Regions from separate parts of the Homo sapiens genome. Here all the other regions are linked to region 1. The links come from fine-mapping of genetic effects on gene expression. A gene starts in region 1. Each other region holds a variant in brackets. All regions are shown on one strand. Distances are between the middles of the regions.

Region 1 (4,242 bases):
ACTGTAAAAATAAGTTTACTTTGACAGTCTCTATTACTTAAGACATTTGGTCTATCAGATAATATCTTCGTAATCATAGTGCTGTTTAAACTTTCAGTTTTTTTGTTCGTTTGCTTTTGTTTTTGAGACGGAATCTCACTCTGTCGCCCAGGCTGGACTGTAGTGGCACTATCTCGGCTCACTGCAACCTCCGCCTCCTGGGCTCAAGCGATTCTCCTGCCTCAACCTCCCGAGTAGCTGGGGTTACAGGCGCCCGCCGCCGCGCCCGGCTAATTTTTGTATTTTTAGTAGAGACGGAGTTTCACCCTGTTGGCCAGACTGGTCTCGAACTCCTGACCTCAGGTGATCGGCGCGCCTCGGCGTCCCAAAGTGCTGGGATTACAGGCGTGAGCCACCACCCCCAGCCTACACTTTCACTTTTTGATGAAATCCATGGATGGCTTCCTGAGATACATTGAGATTTTGTGTGTGTGCTATCTTCTGGAATGAAGCCCCACACCGTTTATTAGATGATCTTGGGGATATATGTCTTGAAGGGAAGAATGATTTAGAATATCACATTAAAATTGTATATGTACTGTGAGGCAGCAATACAAATCTGGCACTTTGCCAAAGTTATTACTAGTAGGTGGGTTAAAGGGACGTTTACTCCAATACTATGCAAAGTAAAGTGGACCTTTCTGTCAAACAAAAATAGTAATAGGCCGGGCATGGTGGCTCAAGCCTGTAATTCTCAGCCTGGTGGCTCAAGCCTGTAGTTGTCAGCACTTTGGGAGGCTGAGGCGGGAGGATAGCTTGAGCCCAGGAGGTCGAGGCTGCAGTGAGCCACGATTGTGTCACTGCCCTCCAGCCTGGGCGACAGAGTGAGACCCTGTCTCTAAAGACAAACCACACACACATATACACACACACACTGACACACACTTATTGTTCAATTCAGTGCGTGTTTTGCTTCGTTTTGGATGAAAATTAACAGGCTTTCACATTGTGACTTAATCTTATCAGAGACTCCTAAAGTAAACAATAGCGCAGTAGGAGAAACCCTGATTGTGTAACTTCTGCTCTTGCTCCCCTGGAAATAATGTCATTTCCTATAAACCCACCCCCAAACAATCGTGACTACGTATTCATACCACTGGAGTCTTCCAAAATAGCAACTGCACATTATTTATCAACGTTTAGTTTGCATTTGACAAAGCACATCCACCTGGGCTTCCATTTATCATTGCTATTATTATATTTTATTATTATTTTCTTATTTCCAAAATCTTTGTAGAATGGAAAGTAAACGGGGGGACCAAAACCCCACTTAGAACTCTGCTTAGAAGATTCGGAAATGCCCTTGAGGTTTGGTCCTCCCAGGAGAGCACGAAGTTTATCCTCGCGCGCAGCCTCTCTTCCCCGGCCCGCGCCCACCGGCCTAGCCCGGGGCTAGCGCCCGCCCACGTGTGCTCGGCTCCAGGCAAACCCCGCTGAGCAGCGGCCGCACACCGCCCACCCCGGGGATTGGTCAGCGCGGCCGGGGCCCGGCGGGAGGCGGGCTCGGGGTCGCGTTCCGGGAGCGCGGAGGAGGCGGTGCCGCCCGGCCCCGCGCCCCGCCCCCGCCCCGGGTGGCTACACAGAGGGGCGCCCACGTGCCCAGCCCTCCTTCTGCAGCGCGGCCGGCGGGCGCTCCTCTTCGCGGGACCAGCGAGGCGGCGGCCGCTGCTCCAGCGTCCCCCAGCCGCGGGCCCCCGACGCGCTGCAGCCGGCAGCCCACCGCCGCCTTCTTGGCGCGACCCCAACCCAGCCCCAGTAAGTTGCTAGGTCTCCAGCCCCGCCGAGAGGCCGCGGGCGAGGGGCAGCCCGGACGCTGGGGCCGGCGGGGAAGGAGCGGGGCGAGGGCGCCCTGGGGCCGGCGGGGAACTAGAGGGTCGAGGGCTCCCGGGGACGAGTCCAGCTGCGCGCAGCTGCCCTGAGGCCGCGCTCCAGCGAGTCTTCGTCAGGGAGTCGGGGCCGTGGGCTGGGGCTGAAGCCGTGGACCTTCGTCCTCGGGGCTGCGCCCCGGAATGCGCCTCGCCTCGTCCGGTCCCTGTGCAGCCGGCTCTGCCCGGGGACTTCGGGGACCGCTGGAACTGGGAGAGGGGCTGGCACGGCGACTTCGCGGGGACCCTTCAGTCACTATTTCCAGAGGAGCTCGGCGCACCCCTCTCCGGGTGGGCAGGCTGAACCTCCTGGCCCTGCACGCTGCCGGGGTCCCCGAAGCCGCCTTCGCTCCTTTTCGGTTCTTGGCTTAAATTAGAAAGCCGGCTTGGAGCGCTGGAAGCCCCTTCACATTCTGCAGGGGACCTGGTAAAATAGCCCGTCTTGGTGTTTGTATTGGGTATTTTAAAGTAACTGGGTGCCTTTTAAAATCCGTTTGAGATGGGCTGTATTTTATAAGCCCGTTTCATGAAACGCTGTTCTTGAGGCTTAGAGAATCTCCCAACCCATCACCCCAGAGTACCTGTCCGTTCAGAAAGTACCTTTTCATCCTCTTTTGACGCTTACATCCAGTCTATGGAGTAAGGTATTGAGAGATTGTCATCTTCAACTCGTCGAAAAGAAATATGCTCAGCAAAAGCCACAATCATATGTGGCTTTTGAAGTGGATATAGTGCCTGGATTTCAAGAGAAAAAGTACTCAGCCTCTTCAGAGTTGTAAATATTTGTGCAAAACTGGCTAAAGCCTTTAGGTGACTAATTTTGGACCAGTAATAAGATTTATCTAGACGTTTGTGCAGAAACACTAATCCTTTTAATGAGAGGATATCGTCAGATCTTATTCAAATAAGAGCTCTCTGAATCCCATCCAGGGCCGCCTGGGTTATAAAATTAGAATGTATGTGGCCTTGACTTGATACTTTTTCATTCTTGCCTGAGCTAGTCTTTAAAAGTTAATAATTATCTCCTCCGGAAGGTGAAACATTCTGTGTTTGTAATCTTTCTCTAGGAGATGTATAAGATGTGAATATTCTGTATTATGTACCTTGTTAGGATTGCTTTGTAATTAGTAAATCCTTTTTTATTTTAATTGCACTGAAGCGTGACATGAAATGATCTCTCAGTGCAGAACACAGGACTTCTTCCCTCTCCTTTTCCTACAAAGTTGCTAGTTGCCTGCTCTGGGAGGCCACTTTATTGTGATTTTTCAAGTTTCTTCCCTCGGCCCACACTTTGTTTACATTCTGTGCCTTCATCTGGGAATGGTCATTTACCTTAAGGCATTTTAATCTTTTAGGGTGTGCCATGGCCTTGGAGACCAGAGTAAAGCGCTGTGGTATCTGCGGGGATCAGTTTGCAGAATCCTTGGCCTCCTAAGCAGTGGGCATAGCTCTTTTCATTCCAGAATCTCTGATCATTCCAGAGTCTCTCCTGTCACTGGGCTTAGGAGCCTGGGAAGGCGAATAGAAGCTAGCTGGGGAGACAGGGGAGCTGTGGCAGTTTAAAAAGCCTGATCTTGCGCTGGAGTTTTTCATCTTGCATTCTCATGTATCTTTGCCTTTTGAACACATGTGCCTGAAGAATTTTAAAGTTCACGTTTCTTGCTTTGCACTGCAAGCACACTCACCTTTGCAGAGTGGAAGTGCCTTGTCCCCATTCTAGGTGGTCTACCTTCTGTTCTCTTTTCAGACCTCCTGGCTTAAGCCCTTGTTTCTCCTGGCTGTTATGGCCAGACCCGGAGTCCCCGTTGTGCCCATTTCTTCTCTTTTCAGTCCTTCCTTTTCAAATGTTTTTTCCCAGAAGTCCTCTGGCAACTTCTCTATTTCACCTAGCCTCTGTCTTCTCTTGTTTTATTTTTCCCTCTCTCCCTCCCTCTCTATCCCTCTTTCCCCCTCTTTCCCTCCTTCTCCCTCCTTTCTCTCTTCCTCTCTCTCTGTCTCTCTCTCTCTCTCCCCCTCTCTCCCTCATTTCTCTCTCCCTCTCTCTGTCCCTCTTCCCTCCATTCTCTCTCCCCCCTTCTCTCTCTGTGTGTTCAGAGCCATCTGCTGGTTTTACTTTGGTGCCCTTTGGTGGACAACTTTCAGAACAGAATCTTGGGAGCACCTTCATGTTGCTGTTTGCTTTATTTCCCCCAAACATGTAGATATGAACACACTGATTTTAAAGACTCTTATAGACTACCTACTAGATGCCAAACATTTAGAACAAAAGCAAAAGCTTTCAGTGGAATATATTTCTAAATACTCACATATTTAGTTTTGGGTGCATCATTTGAATGCT
Region 2 (4,242 bases), 110 kb before region 1:
TTATATAGCTCTTTGGGAACTATGGGGAAATATTTTTCCAAGGGCAAGTTGTGCCAAATAGAACTTACTAACCAAAGGGAGGAGAAAGCCCAGGCACAGAGAGACCCAAGTCTCATGCTCTCCCTCCCACCAACCCCTGGCAAGTACCAGTGCCAGAGGACAAAGGGGTACACTCTGTCCACCCAGGCCAAGGCCAGGTTCCAGCTCATTTACACATTCCCATGCCTCACTCCTCGGCTTCGAAGACCCCAAGGACAGACTGCATAATTGGCACCATATTTTTCTCTTTCTCCTCTTACAGTCCGGCCCTAAAGTGTCCATCATTCCCACTCTGGGAAATGAGTATAAAGCAGAATGCCTTGCAGACCCAATGATGTGGAGGCCTCTTCTGAGGCCCAATAAGCAAAGCTGCATGATTGCCTGCCACAGTGCACTCTGAGGTCACCAAGAACAGTAAGAAAAGGACACTGCCACTCACCAAGTGCAACATACTCACCTCCAGCCTGACACCCAAGATCCACCTCCTTAATAACACCTTTCCTCAACTACCCCAGTCCACTGGGATCATTCACTGTCCTCTGAATTGCTGTGACCTCTCTGATCACTACTTGGTTTCTACTTATCCTACACTACTTCATTACACGCTATCTTTACTGTACACTCTAACCATTACCACAATCATATTCTCATGGGAACCCAAGTTATTTTATTCCTAATATTCCCTGCAGCACAATGAACAATGCTAGGCAAACACTCACACTAGAACTGTGGGAAGAAAGGAAAAGAGACACACGGTCCTTGGCTTACTGGCTTCCTGAAACAACAATGATCACACTTCAGAACATCACAGCAACCCTCGGTGGCAGGATCCTTGAAGATTGGCACTAATGTTTTTGCCTATCTTTGTAGCCTGATGCCAAGCACAGATGCTAAGTATTTGTTCAATGAATGAAAATTAACAGTACTATGGTAAAAATAAATTATGTGATGGCTTATAGGTAGAATTAAGTATGATTAACCCAGAATGCTTTATTATTGAATTTGACTTTTCAGACAGGAAGTTAGGAAAGATTCAGCTGTGGAAGATGTTGCACATACAGGAAACAGAGCAGAGACGGGGAAAAAATAAAACAAAACTTCATCTGCAAATGTGAAAAGTAGGGCCATATAACTAAAATGGAGAATACTGGAGGAGAAAAAAAAACATGTTTGTTGAAAGATATTGAAAGATACTGAAGCTTCGACACCAAGTCACATTAAACCGTTTCCTTTATCCATTCATACAACAAATATTTATTGTGCACCTTTACTCTGTACCAGACATAGAGTGTTCTGAGTGCTGGGGGCACATGAATTGGGAAGATAAAGTCACTGCTCACATGGAGTTTGTACCTTCTGCTTGAAGGTGGGAAAGCATGGAAACAGGGAATATGTTAAAAAAAAAAAAAAAGAAATCCCTCATGTATTAGCCTGTTCTTATACTGCCATAAAGAAATAACTGACACTGGGTAATTTATAAAGAGAAGAGGTTTAATCGGCTCGTGGTTCTGCAGGCTGTACAGGAAGCAGAGCGGCTTTTGCTTCTGGGGAGGCCTCAGGAAGCTTCCAATCATGGTGTAAGGCAAAGGGGGAGTGAAGCTTCTCACATGGTGGGAGCAGGAACAAGAAAGAGTGAGGGAGGAGGTGCCACACTCTTTTAGACAACCAGATCTCAAAAGAACTCACTATCACAAGAGCAGCACC[A/G]AGGCGATGGTGCTAAACCATTCATATGAAATCCACCCCCATCATGCAACCATCTCCCACCAGGCCCAACCGCTAACATTGGGGATTACAATTTGGCATAAGATATGGTGGAACTGTATCACCACGTATGTGTGCCAGAAGATTCCTAGAGAGGAAATTAAAGCAGGATAAGCAGTTGAGTGAGGAGGGCCAGCAGGATACTGTATTAGTCCCTTCTCATACTGCTATAAAGATAGTACCCAAGACTGGGTAATTTATAAAGGAAAGAGGTTTAATTGACTCACAGTTCTGCATGGCTGGGGAGGCCTCAGGAAACTTACAATCATGGCAGACGAGGAAGCAAACACATCGTTCTTCACAAGGGAGCAGGAGAGAGAAGTACAGAATGAAAGGGGAAGAGCCCCTTATGAAATCATCAGCTCTCATGAGAACTCACTACCGCTTACCAGAGTAGTAAGGGGAAACCACCCCTGTGATCCAGTCACCTCCCGTGAGGTCCCTCCCCCAACACGTGGGGATTACAATTCAGATTACAATCCAAGATGGGATTTGGGTGGGGGCACAGAGCCAGACCATATCAGGTGCCCAGGGAAGTCTTCTCTAATAACATAATTAGATATTTCAGTAGAGAACCAGAATGAGTGAGAAAGCCAGCCATGGGGGTATCTGGGGAGAGCATTCCAGGCAGAGGGAACAACAAATGACAAGACCCTGGGCAGGAACAGGTAGATGTGGTCAAGGGTCTACGAGGACGTGAGGACTTCTGGATCAGCATCTGTGAGGGGAAACAAGTAGGAGATGAGGTGCCCAGTAGATGGACAAACCTTGTAGGGCCTGCCGGGACAACGTTATGACTTTGACTTTCACTCTGAGTAGGGTAGGAAGCAACTGGAAGGTTTACAGGGGGAGGGTGGCAGGATCTGGGAAAAAATCTTTTAAAAATGGGAGATTTTCCAAAATCTTAGCTTACAGTGATGACATATATATTGTTTTAAAGAACTGCAATATTATTTTTTTACTAAAGAATTTTTACAAATTCTTTACTACACGGTAAGTTCCATGAAACTAGGGCCACTGTCTGTCTTATTTACCACTGGATCTCCAGGGCCTAAAACTGGCATAGAGAAAGCACTCAAGGAATACTTCCAGAATGTACAAGTGAAAGGATATATGCATCAATAGGGTCTTTAAATGTATCCGTTTAGCTTAAAAGGCAGAATCCCTTCCTTAAACTACCACTACTCAAACTGGGTGAACAGTTCACCGCAACTTGCACAGATCAACTGTACCTTGTTCTAAGTAATGTGTGCTTTGCTACAGGCCCTAAGGAGTAAAATTTACTTTCACAGCTTGGCAATAAATTTATTTCTCCGGGAATCTATGATAAGCAGTGTTTTAATAAATGAAAAAGAGGAGAAAAGTAAACATACAATTTTTATAAAGTTGTCATAGCCTGCCACAAAACATTAAGTGGGGGTTATTTTTAAACCATTTTAAATGGTTGTGGGAGGAAGGGTTGGGTTTATGTCCTGGGAAGTACTTTTACTCCCAGAGGCTTCAACTAGCTGTCCACCAGGGGAAAGGGCACTAGGAAAAATAGTTTAGACTTTTCCTGGCCTAAGAAATATGGTACAAAATGAGCTTCTTGGACTCCCTCTGAGTGCAGTATGAGAATATAAAACTGAACCATCACACGGACAAAGTCACGGAATCTTGGGTGTCTGGTCAAGAGGTTTAATTTCAAGCGTACTTCACAGCTTGTCCTGTTCAGAATGGGAAAAAAAGCAATAAAAATAAGCTTTAAATAAGGATGAGAAAATATATGTACATCTGTGAAAACAAGCATTCCAAATGCTGTTTTTCCTCCAGATGTAAGACAGAAGTGATAACCAAACCTAATCAGTTAATAATGTGAGTTCAATAGGGAAATGTCAAAATTTACTAATAAATAAATAAATAATGGCTCAAGTAGACTTACATAGGAGGTTACAGTTTCACGTCTTTATCATTCCTCACAAGCATATAAATGTTTCAAGGTGTACAGTGCCTTAAAATTGCATCCCTTTTTAAAGCTTTCATGGCAGCACAAATGTAACCCTCTTACTTTCCTCCACTAAAAAGCCAAAGTGTGTTTCCCACTTTCTTCTCCATACTTTCATTCCAAAAAGACTCTCTTTCAGGAATCTAGGGCGATGTCACTGAGGCTTTGCCTCATAGGCCACTGCAGAGGCTTCCTGAGCGAAACTTGACACCTTTCCTAAAATCCATGTGTTTGACGAGATCAATGTTTTTATTAAAGAACAATATGCTCCAAAGTCTGGGTGTGAACTAGAGTTGGGTTACAGGGAGGCATTCTTTGCAGAGTTCCTCCAGAGGAAAAAATATTGAAACTCATTGTGCAGCAGGGAGGTGAATGAGTAGGTCAAATGAAATGTTTGGATTTAGAAAATTCTTTTTATTCTCAAATTTCATGGAAGTTCTTTCAGCATACAAACTTGT
Region 3 (4,242 bases), 110 kb before region 1:
GGCCTGTTGGCAGCTCAGATAAGACACATCCACCACCTGGGGGGTGTGGAAGGTCCCAGGGAAGGGAGCCGCTCTTAGATACCAAGGTTGGGAGGATGGTTCTGGGCATCAGTTTTACCTTTAAACAGTGCCCACCCTCTCAGTCCCTACTTAACTAAGTGCTGATGCCAAATCCAGGCAATCCAGGATGAATTTTTCAGAAAAGCTTATGGCAAAGGAGGCAGCGTAACTGTGGTGCGTTCCTTTTAACCCTTCCCTCAAGCAGAGGGAGCAAGAGGAGGAAGGGTAATAACAACAACGAAAATACTTTTACCACTGACCACACAACTACTGCGCATCAGATACTGTGCTAGGTATTATCCACATGCTACTTCTAACCTTAGCTGAGACAAAGACATGAAGAGCATGAAAAATCAATCAACTGCCCAAGCCTCGCATCTAGAAAGTGGCAGAGCCAGATTTCAAACCAGAAGTGTCCACTTCCCTGGATCTCTCCCATACCTGACCACTTCAGTCTGGGTCTAATATTGCAAATGAAGGAAAAACATCCTGGCTCAACAGTCTCTCCTCCATCGTCCCTGAGATTTCAGTTAGAGAGGAATATGTTTAACAAGTTAAATGCTCTAGCTACAGCTAAAAGATTTGGTATCTGGTACAGACCAGCTTGGCTGGCCATGTGACCTCCCTGCTTGCTCATTTCTCTTGTCTGGAGGGGCAAATCCCCGAAAGACTCGGTTCTCCCGGTGGTCGAGGGATTCTCTGGGCGGAGCTCTGAAGTGTGCACCAGCATGTTTCAAATCGAAAGGTTCAAAGGCCTCCTGCAGCTTTGGAGGAACCATGCAGGAACCAAGCCCCACTTCTAACCAGCAATGCAGTAATTATAGAAACATCTACCATATAGAAATTCTCAAGTCATTTTTATTTATGACAGGTGTCACTGTCTGTATAATGGTTGCTAAAAAAAGATGTTTCAAGTTGGAGTTCAGAGTTCCTGGACAAATGATCCCATCTGTAACTAACTGCATGTGTGAGAGAGGGGAAAAAAGCATACATCTCACTAGTTATTAAAAAATAATTGTTATTGGCTGGGCATAGTGGCTCATACCCATAATCCCAGAACTTTAGGAGGCTGAGGCAGGAAGATCACTTGAGGCCGACAGTTCGAGACCAGCCTGGGCAACAAGATGAGATCCCCATCTCTACACAAAATAAAATAATATCTAGGCATAGTGGCAGGCACCTGTAGGCCCAGCTACTTAGGAGGCTGAAGTGGGCAGATGGTTTGAGCCCAGGAGTTTGAGGTTATAGTCAGACATGATCGTGCCACTGCCTTCCAGCCTGGATGACAGAGTGAGACCCTAACTCTAAAAAATAAATAAATAAATAATTATTAACAAACATATCCATAACACAGACTTCAGAGTTTTACTTCTTGCTCCCACCTCATGTCCACAACTTCATTTCTCCTGTGTGAAACTCACAGAAACAATAGAGTATGCAAAAAATATAAACTACCCAATTATAGCTGGCAAAGTACTCTGACATACAAGAAGAAAAACTGAAGCTATAGCAAATTCTCCAAACAATGTAGAATTGCCATGATCTCTTATAATTACAGAAAAAGGGCATTTGGTTTTTCCAATTTAAAAAGAAAGCACTTTTTTCCTATTTACATAAAGTTACTGAAACAAAAGGTGG[C/T]AACCATGAAGCTTCAGGAGTTTTTAAATTCAGCCTTTTGACAGAGAAATAAAGAACGTCAACTGTTTTTCCAAAAGGAGTATTTAATCTTTCTACAGCTAAAAAACCATTGAAAGTCTTTTCCCAGGACTATTTTATTCAAACATCAGAGATTAGAGAAGAATTGAGCATAATCCAAGAAAATATATGACACATAACCAGAAGTAACAGAGACTCTACCTTTCACGAAATCCCTTAGATACCTCTGGTATAATGAAGAAAAAATGCTGGTGGGATGCACACACAGGGATATATCTGGGAGGCATGCAAAGAATCCTATTCTCAAGCTGCCTAAAACAATTAATTCTTCAAAAACTGCATTCTGCTGTGAAACTAAGTTATTTCAAAAACATAGTTAATATAGTTGATATCGTTTGGATCTGTGTCCCCATCCAAATTTCACGTCAAATTGTAACCCCCAGTGTTGGAGGTGGGGCCTGGTGGGAGGTGATTTGATCATGGGGCAGTTTCTCCTGAATGGCTCGGCACCATCCCTCTTGGTACTTGATATGGTTTGGCTGTGTCCCCACGCAAATCTCATCTTCAATTGTAGCTCTCCCAATCCCCGCATGCCGTGGGAGGGACCTGGTGGGAGGTAACTGAATCATGGGGCTGGGTCATTCCTGGACTGTTCTCGTGATAGTGAATACGCCTCATGACATCTGATGGTTTTATAAAGGGAGCTTCCCTGCATAAGCCTTCTCTCTTGCCCACCACCACGTAAGAAGTCTCTTTGCTCTGCCTTCGTCTTCCGCCACGATTGTGAGGCCTTCCCAGCCATGTAGAACTGTGAGTCCATTAAGCCTCTTCCCTTTATAAATTACCCAATCGCGGGTATGTCTTAATTAGCAGCATGAGAACACACTAATATAGTACTGTCCTCACGATGGTGAGTTCATTCTCAGGAGATGTGGTTGTTTAAAAGGGTACAGCACCTACCCTGTCTCTGTCTTGCTCCTGCTCCTACCATGTAAGAAGTATCTGCTCCCTCTTAACCTTCCACCATGATTGTGTTTCCTGTGGCCTCCCGGCAGCAGATGCCACCATGCCTCCAGTACAAACTTTGGAACCATGAGCCAATTAAACCTCTTTTCTTCATAAATTACCCGGTCTCAGATATTTATTTATACCAATGTGAGAATGGCCTAATAGTCAATACAATACAAAGCAAGCTACTTGTGAAAGAACCTTGTGAAAATTAGACAGCTGCTGCCCATCAATTTAAGCCCTTTTAATTTAATTAATTAAATCTGCTAAATTGTGGAGTGCCTGCTCTGTGCCAGGCACCCAGACTATTTATCAGACTCTCCTGGCCAGGAGCAGTGGCTCACACTTGTAATCCCAGCACTTTGGGAGCCTGAGGCAGGAGGACTGCTTGAGCCCAGGAGTTAGAGACCAGTCCAGATCATGCAGTGAGACCCTGTCTCTACCAAAAAAATTTAAAAATTAGCCAAGCATGGTGGCACATGCCTATAGTCCCAGCTAATCAGAGGGCTAAAGAGGGCAGATCACTTGAGCCAGGGAGGTCAAGGCTGCAGTGGGCCGTGATCATGCCACTGCATTGCAGGCTGGGCAGCAGAGTGAGACCTTGTCTCAAAAACAAAACAAAAAGTTCCTAACTGGTAATACTGCCCACAGATGATCTGATTCCACCTCTATCTCCTAGGACTCTTATAGGAGCAAGAGACAGAAATCTCAACCTCATATGGCTTGAGCCAAAAGGGCTTTTATTGGATCATACGTCTACAAAGGTCAGTGATAGGGCTGGCTTCAGAAGGGGAGATGGGCTGAAAACACTCAGCTCCTCACCCTCAAACTCTTGGCTGGGCCCTCATTGCTGGCTCTCAGCAGGCTCTGCTCATGATGGCTCCAGTTGCCCCTGTCCCATCTCCTGCCACATCCATGGCCATGAAGAAAAGCGCCAGCTGCCCTTCTTGGAGCCCAAGCCAAGTATCACTGCATCTCACTTGGTCACACGCTTACCCCTAAACCATTCAGTGTGGTCATGAAATGACATGATTTGGGTAGCTGGATTGGCAGTACGCCACACACCAAAAAAACATACAAACTGAGCATAGAGCAGGCATGGCTCCTCAGAGGGAGCCTGGGAGAGTGGATGATGGGTGACCAAAGCCCAGCACATCCTGCCACACAGTCTAGTCCCCAGGATGGCACTCAAACAGTAGTCACTCTAGATACACCCTGATCATGTCACTCTCTGTTCAGAGCTACAGTATCTCCCCACTGCTGCTAACCGGGCCTTCCACAACCTAGCCCCACCTTACCGGCTAAACAGGTTCCTCCTTTCATTCCCAAAGCAGTCACCAGTCTCATATGATAGATATCACTGATCATTCTTCCCAGGTATTCTGATGTACCAGCATCTATGCATGTGAAGATATCCCAGGTATTCCGATATCCCAGATATCCCAGGTATTCTGATGTACCAGCATCTGTTTCTTCCTCTACCAATATCTATTTAGCCTGGAGAGCCCATATCATCAT

Alleles and levels. Positions count from the first base shown, and alleles are read on the strand shown. Sizes are in standard deviations (SD) of each study's normalised expression. Not every link is listed here.
With allele C in place of T in region 3, the expression in unexposed skin of the gene that starts at base 1,645 in region 1 is lower (small effect, 0.29 SD a copy in GTEx).

The links. PIP is the estimated chance that this variant, and not a neighbour inherited with it, causes the effect. A credible set is the group of variants that fine-mapping cannot tell apart.
Region 2: its variant is the best candidate, but not a certain one, in a credible set for the expression of SLC7A2 in thyroid (GTEx, PIP 0.55).
Region 3: its variant is the best candidate, but not a certain one, in a credible set for the expression of SLC7A2 in unexposed skin (GTEx, PIP 0.79).

Annotation. Positions count from the first base shown.
Region 1 is chr8:17,495,444-17,499,685 of GRCh38, forward strand. It overlaps SLC7A2 (solute carrier family 7 member 2), which reads left to right and starts at 1,645. Exons shown (of 13, transcript NM_001370338.1): 1 at 1,645-1,794.
Region 2 is chr8:17,388,639-17,392,880 of GRCh38, forward strand. The region is part of intron 1 of MTMR7 (myotubularin related protein 7); the gene reads right to left. Among named protein-coding and RNA genes, the nearest start is that of MTMR7, 23 kb to the right of the region's middle. The variant A/G (reference allele first, on the strand shown) is at 1,744.
Region 3 is chr8:17,383,046-17,387,287 of GRCh38, forward strand. All of the region lies in intron 1 of MTMR7 (myotubularin related protein 7), which reads right to left. Among named protein-coding and RNA genes, the nearest start is that of MTMR7, 28 kb to the right of the region's middle. The variant C/T (reference allele first, on the strand shown) is at 1,699.